Linked DNA regions of Homo sapiens. The protein of the gene in region 3 interacts with the protein of the main gene of each other region in a biochemical or structural test. Each region holds a gene or a part of one and is shown on either strand. Other genes may lie near its edges. The genes, in order: DCAF8, HELLS and WDR76.

Region 1 (3,748 bases), on a different chromosome or scaffold from region 3:
TCACTTAGCTTTTCTGTCACATGCCATGAGCCTCTAGTCTCTGCTACCAGAAACCTGAAAGCCTCACGAAAACTGCATTTATAAGTATGTTCTGACTCCCTTTTTGGCACCAACCCATGCTGCTGAATGCCCAGGATGTTTCTTCTGCTAACCAAGAATTCTTCAGACCAGCTACAAAAGAAAGAGCAGCCACTATTTTTTTTTTTTTTTTACAAAAAATTTCCCACTATATCCTAAAAAGTCGGAATTCTGAAATAGACTGGACTCAGACACCAACTAAAGGCAGCATCACTCATCACTCCCCAGCTTTTAGTCACAAGCAGCTAAATATTCTCCTCTAAATACCAAGGGATGACAACCCGAAGCTGTGAGAGGGGAAGAGACCTGATTTGACAACAGGATGAACAGAACTCAGGCAAACTAAGTTCCAGTTTTTAACAACGTAAAAAATATGATCGACACAAAGACAAAATACAAGGAAAATGAATAAAGAAGAAAAGAAGACATGGGGCAGGGGGCACACATTCACTTCTAGGCTTAAGTCATTTGGAGATACACAGCAATAGTTTAGGACAGAAAGACAAGAAGCCCACAGACAATTAAACTTGTAAAAGTAATTCAACCAGAGCTGGAACAAAGCCAAGAACAACACTCAAGCTCTTTGGGAAACTGGTAGGAATTTTATGACTTTAGTGGTCAGCAGTTGAGCATCAGCGCAGTCTGTCTTGAACTCAAGAATTTTAATGCCTCCAACTCCCACTCACCTTTCCTCCTTTTATCACTGAAGTAAGGCCAGGCTGAGCTCCTGAGAAAATAGGTCTGTAGATTCACTGAAGGACTGAGAAAAGTTAAAATTTACATGGCAAAGGTGTGTCTTCTACTGAACATAATAAAAATATTTATGAATACACTTTAGTATTTTTAGGCCTTCTCAAAACTACTTAAAAGCAGAATACTTTATCTAATTCTAATTACTGAACAAATAACCCACACACATATGGAAATAAAATGAACCAACATGAAGATTAGAAGCCAGGCAAGTAATCTCCCAGCTCCACTAAAACGTAAAGTCATTTAAAAGGATAACCTGAATCTTTTCAACGCTAAACCATAACCAAACAACCTCTCAACAAGAAGCCACAGAGCAGGGGGGGAAATCCCGGAGAGAATGTGATAGCGCTAGTGCCGGTTTGTTTACAGAGACTCCAGTAACAATCATGAGTCAGAAATTCAAGCCACCAGATGCTTTCCAACTAACAGGGACCAAATGGGACCGTTCTAAGATATCCTAAAAGATTTGGGAGTTAGAGGAGGTAAACTAAGATAATTATATTACAAAGGGTACAAGACCACAAGACAACAACCGACTCCGGAATTCTTGGACCTCCGCCTTCCGTACAAGGTGCTGGGCCTGGGAACTTGGGATGGGGGAGGGGGACACATTGCGCGGTGGCCCTGAGGTGACGGGGAGACGCAGGGCGAGCCGTGTCCCTCAATCTAAGGGGAGAAATAGGAGCGCACACATGGGTCACCCAACGAAGCAAGGCGTCCCTGTGAACTGTGCGGCTGGCTCTTGGGGGCAACACCAGGGCTGACCTGAGGAAAGGGCAACCAGTACTCCCAGCGATGACTTCGGGTCGGCGGAAGGAAAAGACCTGAGCGCTAAGAGCTTGGGATACGGGTCAGGCCCATCCTTAGGGGAAACCGGCTGGGAAGCGAGGGGGGGCGCAGGCCGAGCCGGAACGAGACACAGACCGGGTAGGTCAAGGGAGGGGGGGTGTCCGGCTGGGGCAGTTACAAGCACGGGAATCGGCGAGGCTCAGCAGCCCGCTTCCCGTCTTGGGTCATCCTTCTGCTAGCGGCTGCTCCGACTGTTCCAGGCCCAGCCGCCCCGTCCACTGCCACCACCAACGCCGCCGCCATCTTACACTGGCCAGCGGCCGCCACCACCACCGCCTCCGCTCTCTGCGCTTGCGCCTGCGCTGCCACGCTTTCCGGCCCCGTTTGCGACGATGTGCTCGAGAAGACTGAGGGAAGAGTGGTCGCGCGAGCTCACGGCTCGCAACCCTCCTCGAAGGACGCACAAGGGGCGGGGCTTAAGGCCAACGGAAAACAGAGCGAGAGGCGCCTGCGCATTACCGAAGAGGCAAAGTTGTTTTTGTAGTTTCTTCGGGCTTGCTTATCTTGTGATACTCTAAACAAATGCGAGTTAGGGGCTACCCAGAGTTGTGATAGAAATAAACTAAATTTCCAGCGGATTGGCAGGCCACTTCCTGGATGATGGCCAGTTTTGCCGTTTTTGAACACTGGAACGAGCAATGATTGCCACAAGGATTTCTTCTGAAAATCCCCGTTTCCTTTCAGGGCTTTGTTTCCTTAAGTGGTTTCTATACTATCGAGGCCCATTTTCCCCTGAGAGTCCCCATTTACGTATTTTTAAAGAAGGGGCTCAGTAGCTTGAGGTGTAGCTATTCCAGAAGCTCTTTTCTGAAGAGAGGTGGTGTGGGTAAAGGTTCCCAAGAGTGGGCCGGGTGATGTGGGGTGACTTTTGTACTCTGTTTCGTTATGACACCTACAGTAACCCTGCAGAGGATTACTCCCAGCTGCCAGGCTGGGGTATTTTTTTTTTTTTTCTTACCAGAAGCCCAGGGTGCAAAAATCTGACCCTTTCTCACCTCCCCTACCGCTACTCTCCTATTCCAAGTCATTACATATTACTTAAGACTACCGCAATAGAAACTTACCTCGTTTGTCTACTTCCATTATTGCCATTACAGTTAAACATAAGGCAGCCAGAGTGCTTTTTAAAAATGTAAGGTCTGGCCGGGCGCGGTGGCTCATGCCTGTAATCCTAGCACTTTGGGAGGCGGATGTGGGCGGATCACTTGAGGTCAGGAGTTCGAAACTCGTTTGAAACCAGGCCAACATGGTGAAACCCGTCTCTACGAAAAATACAAAAAAAAAAAAAAATTACCCGGCATGGTGGAGCGCGCCTGCAATCCCAGCTACTTGGGAGGCTGAGGCAGGAGAATTGCTTGAACCCGGAGGCGGAGGTTGCAGTGAGCTGAGATCGCACCACTGCACTCCAGGCTGGGCAATGGAATGAGACTCCGTCTCAAAAAAAAAGTAATGTCGTATTATTTCCCCAGTCCCCACCCTGCTCAAAACCTCCAATTCCCATCACATAATAAAAGTCAAAAGTATGATAGCCTTAGAGGCCATCAAAAAATGAATTGCCTCTAAGGAGGACCCTACATGATCTGATCTAGCACCTGCCTATTTATCTGATTCATCTCCTCCCACACTGCCTAGCTCTGCTCTAGCCTCACTAGCCTTACTGTCACTCCAGTCAAAGCATGTCCCAGCCCTAGGGTTTTTTTCCTTTTCTTGGAATGTCCATCTACTAGATATTTACTAGACTTGAGGTGTCTATTGAAATCCTACTTCCTAACACAGGCAGCTCTTGACTATTGTAACTAAAATGGAACCTCATGTCATCCTCCTCTATCCCCTTACTCTGCACTGTTTTTTTAATAACATTTTTTACCTATAACATTTAATCTAAAATTATGTTTGTGATCCAGCTATACTACTAGAATATAAATTCTTGAGGGCAAGGACTGTGTTTTTATCATCTTTGTAATCTCAACACCTAGAAGAGGGCTACAGCACAAAGTAGCTATTTAATGCCCCACCGTCCTATTCATTCTTTCATTCATTCAGTCAACAACTATTGAATTCCTGCTCT
Region 2 (3,748 bases), on a different chromosome or scaffold from region 3:
ACCTATTTGGTTGTGTAGTTCAATAATAGCAATTGTTTATACTAGTAATTAAACTAGTAAGTTTAATAGCAGTAATAGTAATAATGAACATCTACTTTACAGAATAGTTGAGGATTCAATGAGTAAATACATATAAAGCATTCAAAACAATGCATGACTCCTAATAAATGTTCAAGAAGTATTAACAATGCTGACAAAAAAATTATTGTTGACATAACAGGGAACCAACGGCCTCATTACTCGTTTTTGGAATGCATTATTTTCCAACTTAAGTAGTTTTATAATCATGAGTTAATTCACTATTATTAAGGACAGAAATTCTGCAGGCAGCCTGAGTTGAAATTTGACTTCAACACTTACTATGTGCCCTTCTCCCTCAGTTTCTTCATTTGTAAATGAAAATAACAAAAAATAACCTATATCATAATATCGGTAGAGTTTAATAAATTAATAAAGCACAAGAAAACCACGTACTAGGCAGTACTTAAGAGTCAACGATCATTCTTTTTCTTGCATATGAATCAAGCAGCAGGGTGGGGCTTTAGAATAAACAAGAATTTTTCAGGTTAAAAACTGTTTTTAGTAACTTACAAAATGCTCTCTACAAGAAAACTACAGCAACTTGTCATTGAAAAAGTACGGCACATTTTTAGCTAAAGAATCTTATGTAGCAATACACAGGCCATGAAACCAAAAGAAAAACAAACAGCAAGTTGATCACTTAGGTGGAAAACAGCACTACAGTATAAGGAAATCATTAGACTTGGATTCCAGCCCAGCCTTTGATTGATGCTAACTTCTCCTGCCCTCAGTCTAGTACATTACTTCTGCAGGTTTTAGCGATTCCTGTTTGCCATGAGACATACATTTAAGGTAATTTTTAAAGGAAATAAGGATGACAAACGAAAAAACTCACTATGGACTTTGAAAGACTTTTCATGGCTAAACAAGCAATCTGAAATGCTCATTTAAAAGTGATGGGACTACCAAGACTACATCTCATAGAAACACACCATTCAAAGCACTTGCGAAAGGATTCTCAAAGGCAATATCTGTAAACATACAAAAAAGACAAGTAATAAAGCTGTTTTCTTTCAGTTATTAAAAAGCCCACTAAATAGGAAAGCAAAGAACACAAACCACACCTCCGGGTTAAAGCCGAGGTTACCACAGGCTTTCACGACGACGAACCTGATGCCTAAATTACCTTTTCCAGCATCTTCCGCTCTCTCTCTAGTCCAGCAGCTTCAAGCTGTTCTTCCTCTTCTAGCATGGCCGGGGTAATCACAGCAGTGTCCAGTTGTTCAACCATTGCTGGAGCCTCCGAGCCTGACGGGGGAGAAAGCTTTCAAATTGCAGTTTTAAAAAAATTACCAACTACTCAACTCCAACAAGAAACAGCCTTTCTCCCACCCGAGATGCACTGGAGCAAAAGCTGAAGACCGAGGGGACGCCAGCATCACCTCTCAGAAGACACCGTAAGTCTTCACAATGTCTACAAGTCGCCTGGACCACAGTTTACAACTCGGGATGCTCGGGAAAATGCAGTTGCCTATGTGAAATCTTCACCGGCATGCTAATACGTGCGATTCCGGGGTGTCCTCCACTCACCGTTGCAGTTTCCCAACCCTCCTTTCCTCCTCAGTCCCTGCCCGGGGTCGGCTCCCTCCCCGAAACTCCGCCGCAGCCTCCATGCTTGCCCACCTCAGCCCCGCAGGCTGCCACCCGCGCCCAAAAGGTTTTCCTCACTCACCGCCGCTGCCCGCGGGCCGTTCCGCTGGCATGCCTGGACACTCACCCGGGAACCGGGTCCCCTCCTCTCAGAGCCTGCAATGCCGCGAGCTAACTCCTCACAACCGCTGCCGGCCCAGCCTTCTAGCCAAATCCCCCGCCAGGGAAAAAAGCGCGCTTCTCCTTCGCGGGAAAATCCTGTCATCTCGCGATACCTTACATTCCCCACCCGCCCTCCCGCCCCGCTGCGCGAGATTTGGCGCAGCTTGCGGTTTTCGTCAGGACTGACCTGTGGCAACCGTAAACCTTTACCTGGACCTCTCTCAGGAGGAAACTGGGTCCCGCTGCCGAACTCAGCCTGTAACTATCCTGTGAGATTGGGCGAGGTGGCCGATCGTGGAGAACCCAGTTTCCTCACATATCTGGTTCCGAACTACGCAATTAAAGTTTGATAGTGCTGTTAATACTTTGCAAGGCGCCTTCCAACGCTGGCTGCTGTGATTGAGCACCCGCTAGCCCATGATCCTGTAGGTAGAGACGTCTGCGTATCTGCACGAGGATGTCAGAAACAGAAACATTTTTATAGGGCCAGCCTCGCCGCACCCGCAGCGCGCGGCTCACATCTTAAGTGAAAAATCCCCCAAAATGACAAAGAGGAGGGCTTTTTTGTGGGTGGGACGGGAGAGAGAAGGAACAGGAAATTAAGATTATGACTGGGTTAAAGAAAGCTGTTTAGGATAAGGGCAAGCTGAAAGAAGTGATGGACCAAGCGGAGTGGCCAGCAGAAGGAAGATTCAGGAAACCAAACAGGATTCATTCATTCGAGTGGGCAGTGAAGGAAGGAGCGGAGCTTTTCTTGTCCCTGGTTTTCACTTCAGCTTTCAATTCCTCCTTTTCTTGTTTGCATTCCTTTTCAACTATTTCCTTTGTCTCCCTCTCCAGGGCTCCCTTTCCCACCTCCAATTTCTTAAGATGTATGGCATTAAATATACCTACCATGTAACCACCCGTTTCCTTCATTTTGACTCCCACAACTTGTATGATTGTGTCTATACAAAATTTAAGAGTTTACAAGCCGGGTGCGGTGACTCACGCCTGTAATCCCAGCACTTTCGGAGCCCAAGGCGGGTGGATCACGAGGTCAGGAGTTCAAGACCAGCCTGGCCAAGATGGTGAAACCCTGTCTCTACTAAAAATACAAAACAGCCGGGCACGGTGGCAGGCGCCTGTAGTCCCAGCTACTCGGGAGGCTGAGGCAGGAGAATCGCCTGAACCTGGGCGGCAGAGGTTGCAGTGAGCAGAGATCGCGCCATTGCACTCCAGCCTGGGCAACAGGGAGAGACTCCGTCTCATAAAAAATAGAAACGAAACCTAGTCTCTATATTTTATTTTATTAAGATAGGGTCTCACTCTGTCGTCCAGGCAGGAGTGCAATGGCACGATCTCTGCTCACTGCAATCTCCACCTCCTGGGCTCAGTTGATCCTCCCACCTCAGCCTAGCAAGTAGCTGAGACTACAGGTGCGTGCCACCACGCCCGGACATTTTAGTGTCGGACATTAGCCCATTCCAGGCTAATTTTTGTTGGTTTGGGGTTTTTGTGTGTTTTTGTTTTTTGGTAGAGACGGTTTTTCGCCATGTTATCTAGACTGGTCTCGAACTCCTAGGTTCAAGGGATCCTCCCAACTCGGCCTCCGGAAGTGCTGAGAGTGCAGGCGTGACACATTGTGCCTGGCCCCTACAAACATTTCCAAAATTAGCCGGCTGTGGTGGCACATGCCTGTGGTCCTAGTACTTGGGAGGCTGAGGTGGGAGAATCACTTGATCCCAGGTGGTCAAGGCTGCAGTGAGCCGAGATTGTAACACTGCACTCCAGCCTGGGTGATAAAGCTACACTTTGTCTCAAAAAAAAAAAAAAAAAAAAAAAAAAAAAAAACCATGGGAATAAAGGGAAATCTTGAGTTGCTTCAAGGGAAATTCCAGGAACCTAGCTAGCCCTGACAAGTAAATAAGCAACT
Region 3 (3,748 bases):
AATTATATACCTAAAGTGGTAAATTGTACCATATGTAACTTTTTTTGAGAGTCTCCCTCTGTCACCCAGACTGGAGCGCAGTGATGCAATCTCGGCTTACTGGAGCCTCACCCTTCCAGGTTCAAGTGATTCTCATGCCTCAGGCCTCCCAAGTAGCTGGGACCACAGGCGCATGCTACCACGCCCAGCTAATTTTTGTATTCTTTTAGAGGTGCGGTTTCACTATGTTGGCCAGGCTGGTCTTGAACTCCTGAGCTCTAGTGATCCACCCTCCTCGGCCTCTGTCAGTGCTGAGATTACAGGTGTGAGCTACCATGCCCAACCTATTCTTTGTATTATTGCAAATAATGCTTGTATGAACATTCCCGTACAAGTTTTTGTGTGGACATGTGCTTTCATTTCTCTTGGGTGTATACCTAGGAGGGATATTGCTAGGTCATATGGTAACTCTGTTTAACATTTAAGGAACTGTCAAACTTTCCCCAACCAACTTTACCATTTCACATACCAATTCTCAAAATATGAGGGTTTCAATTTTTCCACATCATTGTCAACACTTATTACTGGCAAGTATCGTTATCCTAGTGAGTGTAAAGGGGTATCTCATTGTGATTTGCATTTCCCTAATGAATAATGATGCTTAGAATCTTTTCATGTGCTTATTTGCCATTTGTGGGGTTTTTTTGTTTTTTTTTGTTTTTTTTTTTTGAGACAGTCTCGCTCTGTCGCCCAGGCTGGAGTGCAGTGGTGCAATCTCACCTCACTGCAAACTCCACCTCCCGGGTTCAAGCGATTCTCCTGCCTCAGCGTCCCCAGTAGCTGGGACTACAGGTGCCTGCCACCGCGCCTGGCTAATTTTTGTATTTTTAGTAGAGATGGGGTTTCACCATGTTGGCCAGGCTGGTCTCAAATTCCTGACCTCAGGTGATCCACCCGCCTCAGCCTCCCAAAGTTCTGGGATTACAGGGGTGAGCCACCGCACCCGGTGCCATTTGTGTTTCTTTAAAGAAATGTTTATTCAGATCCTTTGCCCATTTTTTAATTGGGTTAGCTTTTTTAATTAAGCTATAGGAGTTCTCCACCTATTGTTTTAAAGTCAAGCTTATTGAAATGTAAGTTACAGCCAGGCGCGGTGGCTCATGCCTGTAATACCAGCACTTTGGAAGGCCAAGGTGGGCAGATCACTTGAGCTCAGGAGTTTGAGACCAGCCTGGGCAACATGGCAAAACACCGTCTCTACTAAAAATACAAAAATTAGCCAAGCATGGTGACACATGACTATAGTTCCAGCTACTCAGGAGGCTTAGGTGGGAGGATCACGTGAGCCTGGGAGGCAGAGGCTGCGGTGAGCCGAGATCAAGCCACTTCACTCCAGCTGGAGTGACAGAGTGAGACCCCCATCTCAAAAAATAAAAATAAGTAAGGCCAGGCGTGGTGGCTCACACCTGTAATCCCAAGACTTTGGGAGGCCAAGGTGGGTGGATCACCTGAGGTCAGGAGTTCAAGACCAGCCTGGCCAACATGGGGAAACCCTGTCTCTACTAAAAATACAAAAATTAGCCAGGTGTGGTGGCACGTGCCTGTAATCCCAGCTACTCAGGAGGATGAGGCAGGAGAATTGCTTGAACCCGGGAGGTGGAAGTTGCAGTGAGCCAAGATTGCACTGCTGCACTGCAGCCTGGGCAACAAGAGCGAGACTCTGTTTCAAAAATAAATATATAAAGAAAGAATAGAAACACAAATGTTCATCAACTGATGAACAGATGAATAAAATGTGGAATACCCATACAATGGCATATTATGCAGCCATAAAAAGGAATGAAGTACTGATACACGGCTACAACATGGATGAACTTTGAATACATTTTGTTAAAGAAACCAGTCACAAAAGACCACAAATTGTATGATTTCATTTATATGAAATGTCCAGAAGAGGCAAATCTGACCACACACAGTGGCTCACGCTGTAATCCCAGCACTTTGGGAGGCTGAGGCAGGTGGATTACAAGGTCAGGAGTTCGAGACCAGCCTGGTCAACATGGTGAAACCCCGTCCCTACTAAAAATACAAAAATTAGCTTGGCATGGTGGCATGCGCCTGTAGTCCCAGCTACTCAGGAGGCTGAGACAGGAGAATCACTTGAACCTGGGAGGCGGAGCTTGCAGTGAGCCAAGATCGCACCACTGCACTCCAGCCTGGGCGACAGAGTGAGACTCCATCTCTACAACAACAACAACGACGACAACAACAACAACAACAAATTACCCGGGCGTGATGATGGGTGCCTGTAATCCCTGCTACTCAGGAGGCTGAGGCAGAAGAATTGCTTGAACCTGGGAGGCAGAAGTTGCAGTGAGCCGAGATCTCGCCACTGCACTCCAGCCTAGGTGACGAGAGTAAAACTCCGTCTCAAAAAAAATAAAATAAAAAAGTTCAACTTATAAGACTTATCTTATTGAGGCAATCTGATACAGTTAAGCAAATCTGAAAGTTCATTTCAAATGATATGTTTGTTTTAAACATTAAGTAGAAGATGTCTTATTTTGAGAGAGGGTCTCACTCTGTCACCCAGGCTGAAGTGCAATGATGTATGTGATCACGGCTTTACTACAGCCTCAATCTCCTGGGCTCAAGCAATCCTCACACCTCAGCCTCCTGAGTAGCTGTGACTACAGGCACATGCCACCACACCAAGCTAATTTTTTTTAGAGACAAGGTCTTACTATGTTGCCCAGGCTGATCTTGAACTCCTGGGCTCAAGTGATTCTCCCACCTCAGCCTCCTGAGTAGCTGAGACTACAGGCACACACCACCAAGCTCAGCTAATATTTTTTATTTTCTGTAGAGACAAGGTCTCGCCATGTTGCCCAGGCTGGTCTGGAACTCCTGGCCTGAAGTGAGTCTCCCACCTTGGCTTCCCAAAGTGCTGAGATTACAAGCATGAGCCACCACACCCAGCTAAATACAAGTCTTATGCCTAAAAACAGAAGAGTAAGTTATTTTAGTTAAAAGCTTTGGGAGAGAAAAAAAAAAGAAATTTAACAAGCGCAAACACATACTATGTGCCAGGCTCTCTTCTAAGTACTTTATCTGCATAAGCTCATTAAATTCTCATGACAACCCTGTAAGGTCAGTCCTGTTAAATCCCATTTCACAGCTAAGGAAAGTGAGGCACAACAAGGTTAAGCAACTTGTCAAGGTCATACAACTAGTAACAGATGATCTGGGATTTGAACTTAGGCAGCGTAGTTCTCAAAGTCCTTCTGCTATACCACTTCTCCCAATTGGTATAATAATTATTCATGTGGCATTTCGAAGAATCTAGAATATCATCTGAAGTCAGCATGTAAACACATTAACATTTACCTCTTCAAAAATAGCCCTGGAAAAATCCCCACAGCGTAACGTGCCATCATAGCTCAGTGACAGTATGTGGGCCGGATTGGCGGGTGAGAAGTAAAGACAGCTAACTGGCTGACTATGGGGATGAAAAACATAAACTCCATCTTCTTTAGGTTGCTGGGTCTGGAAGAGAGTTGCGGGAAAGGGGAGAGAGAAAAAAACTAGTGAAAAATAGTGATTTTTGCTATGCTATTATGTCATTAAAGAATTTACACTGGATTATATTCAGTCTTTTCTTAGTCTATAATTGTAACCACTCTCCCCTTCACAAAGTCAGAATGAGAAACTTTATCTTGTCATTAACTTTTTTCTAGTTTTCAATCCAACAATACCAAGTCACATTAAC

Evidence for each region.
Region 1: the proteins of WDR76 (region 3) and DCAF8 form a complex in vitro, tested with the Homo sapiens proteins (one study listed by BioGRID).
Region 2: the proteins of WDR76 (region 3) and HELLS form a complex in vitro, tested with the Homo sapiens proteins (one study listed by BioGRID).

The regions. Positions count from the first base shown.
Region 1 is NC_000001.11:160,260,521-160,264,268, forward strand, and holds the start of DCAF8 (DDB1- and CUL4-associated factor 8), read right to left. Parts: upstream 2,030-3,748; 5' UTR 1,929-2,029; exon of another isoform or gene 1,597-1,928; intron 1,403-1,596; exon of another isoform or gene 1,229-1,402; intron 839-1,228; 5' UTR 765-838; intron 1-764. UniProt on the Homo sapiens protein: May function as a substrate receptor for CUL4-DDB1 E3 ubiquitin-protein ligase complex.
Region 2 is NC_000010.11:94,543,958-94,547,705, reverse strand, and holds the start of HELLS (lymphoid-specific helicase), read right to left. Parts: upstream 1,919-3,748; 5' UTR 1,785-1,918; coding exon 1,754-1,784; intron 1,330-1,753; coding exon 1,208-1,329; intron 1-1,207. UniProt on the Homo sapiens protein: Plays an essential role in normal development and survival. Involved in regulation of the expansion or survival of lymphoid cells. Required for de novo or maintenance DNA methylation. May control silencing of the imprinted CDKN1C gene through DNA methylation.
Region 3 is NC_000015.10:43,850,864-43,854,611, reverse strand, and holds part of WDR76 (WD repeat-containing protein 76), read right to left. Parts: intron 3,526-3,748; coding exon 3,367-3,525; intron 1-3,366. UniProt on the Homo sapiens protein: Specifically binds 5-hydroxymethylcytosine (5hmC), suggesting that it acts as a specific reader of 5hmC.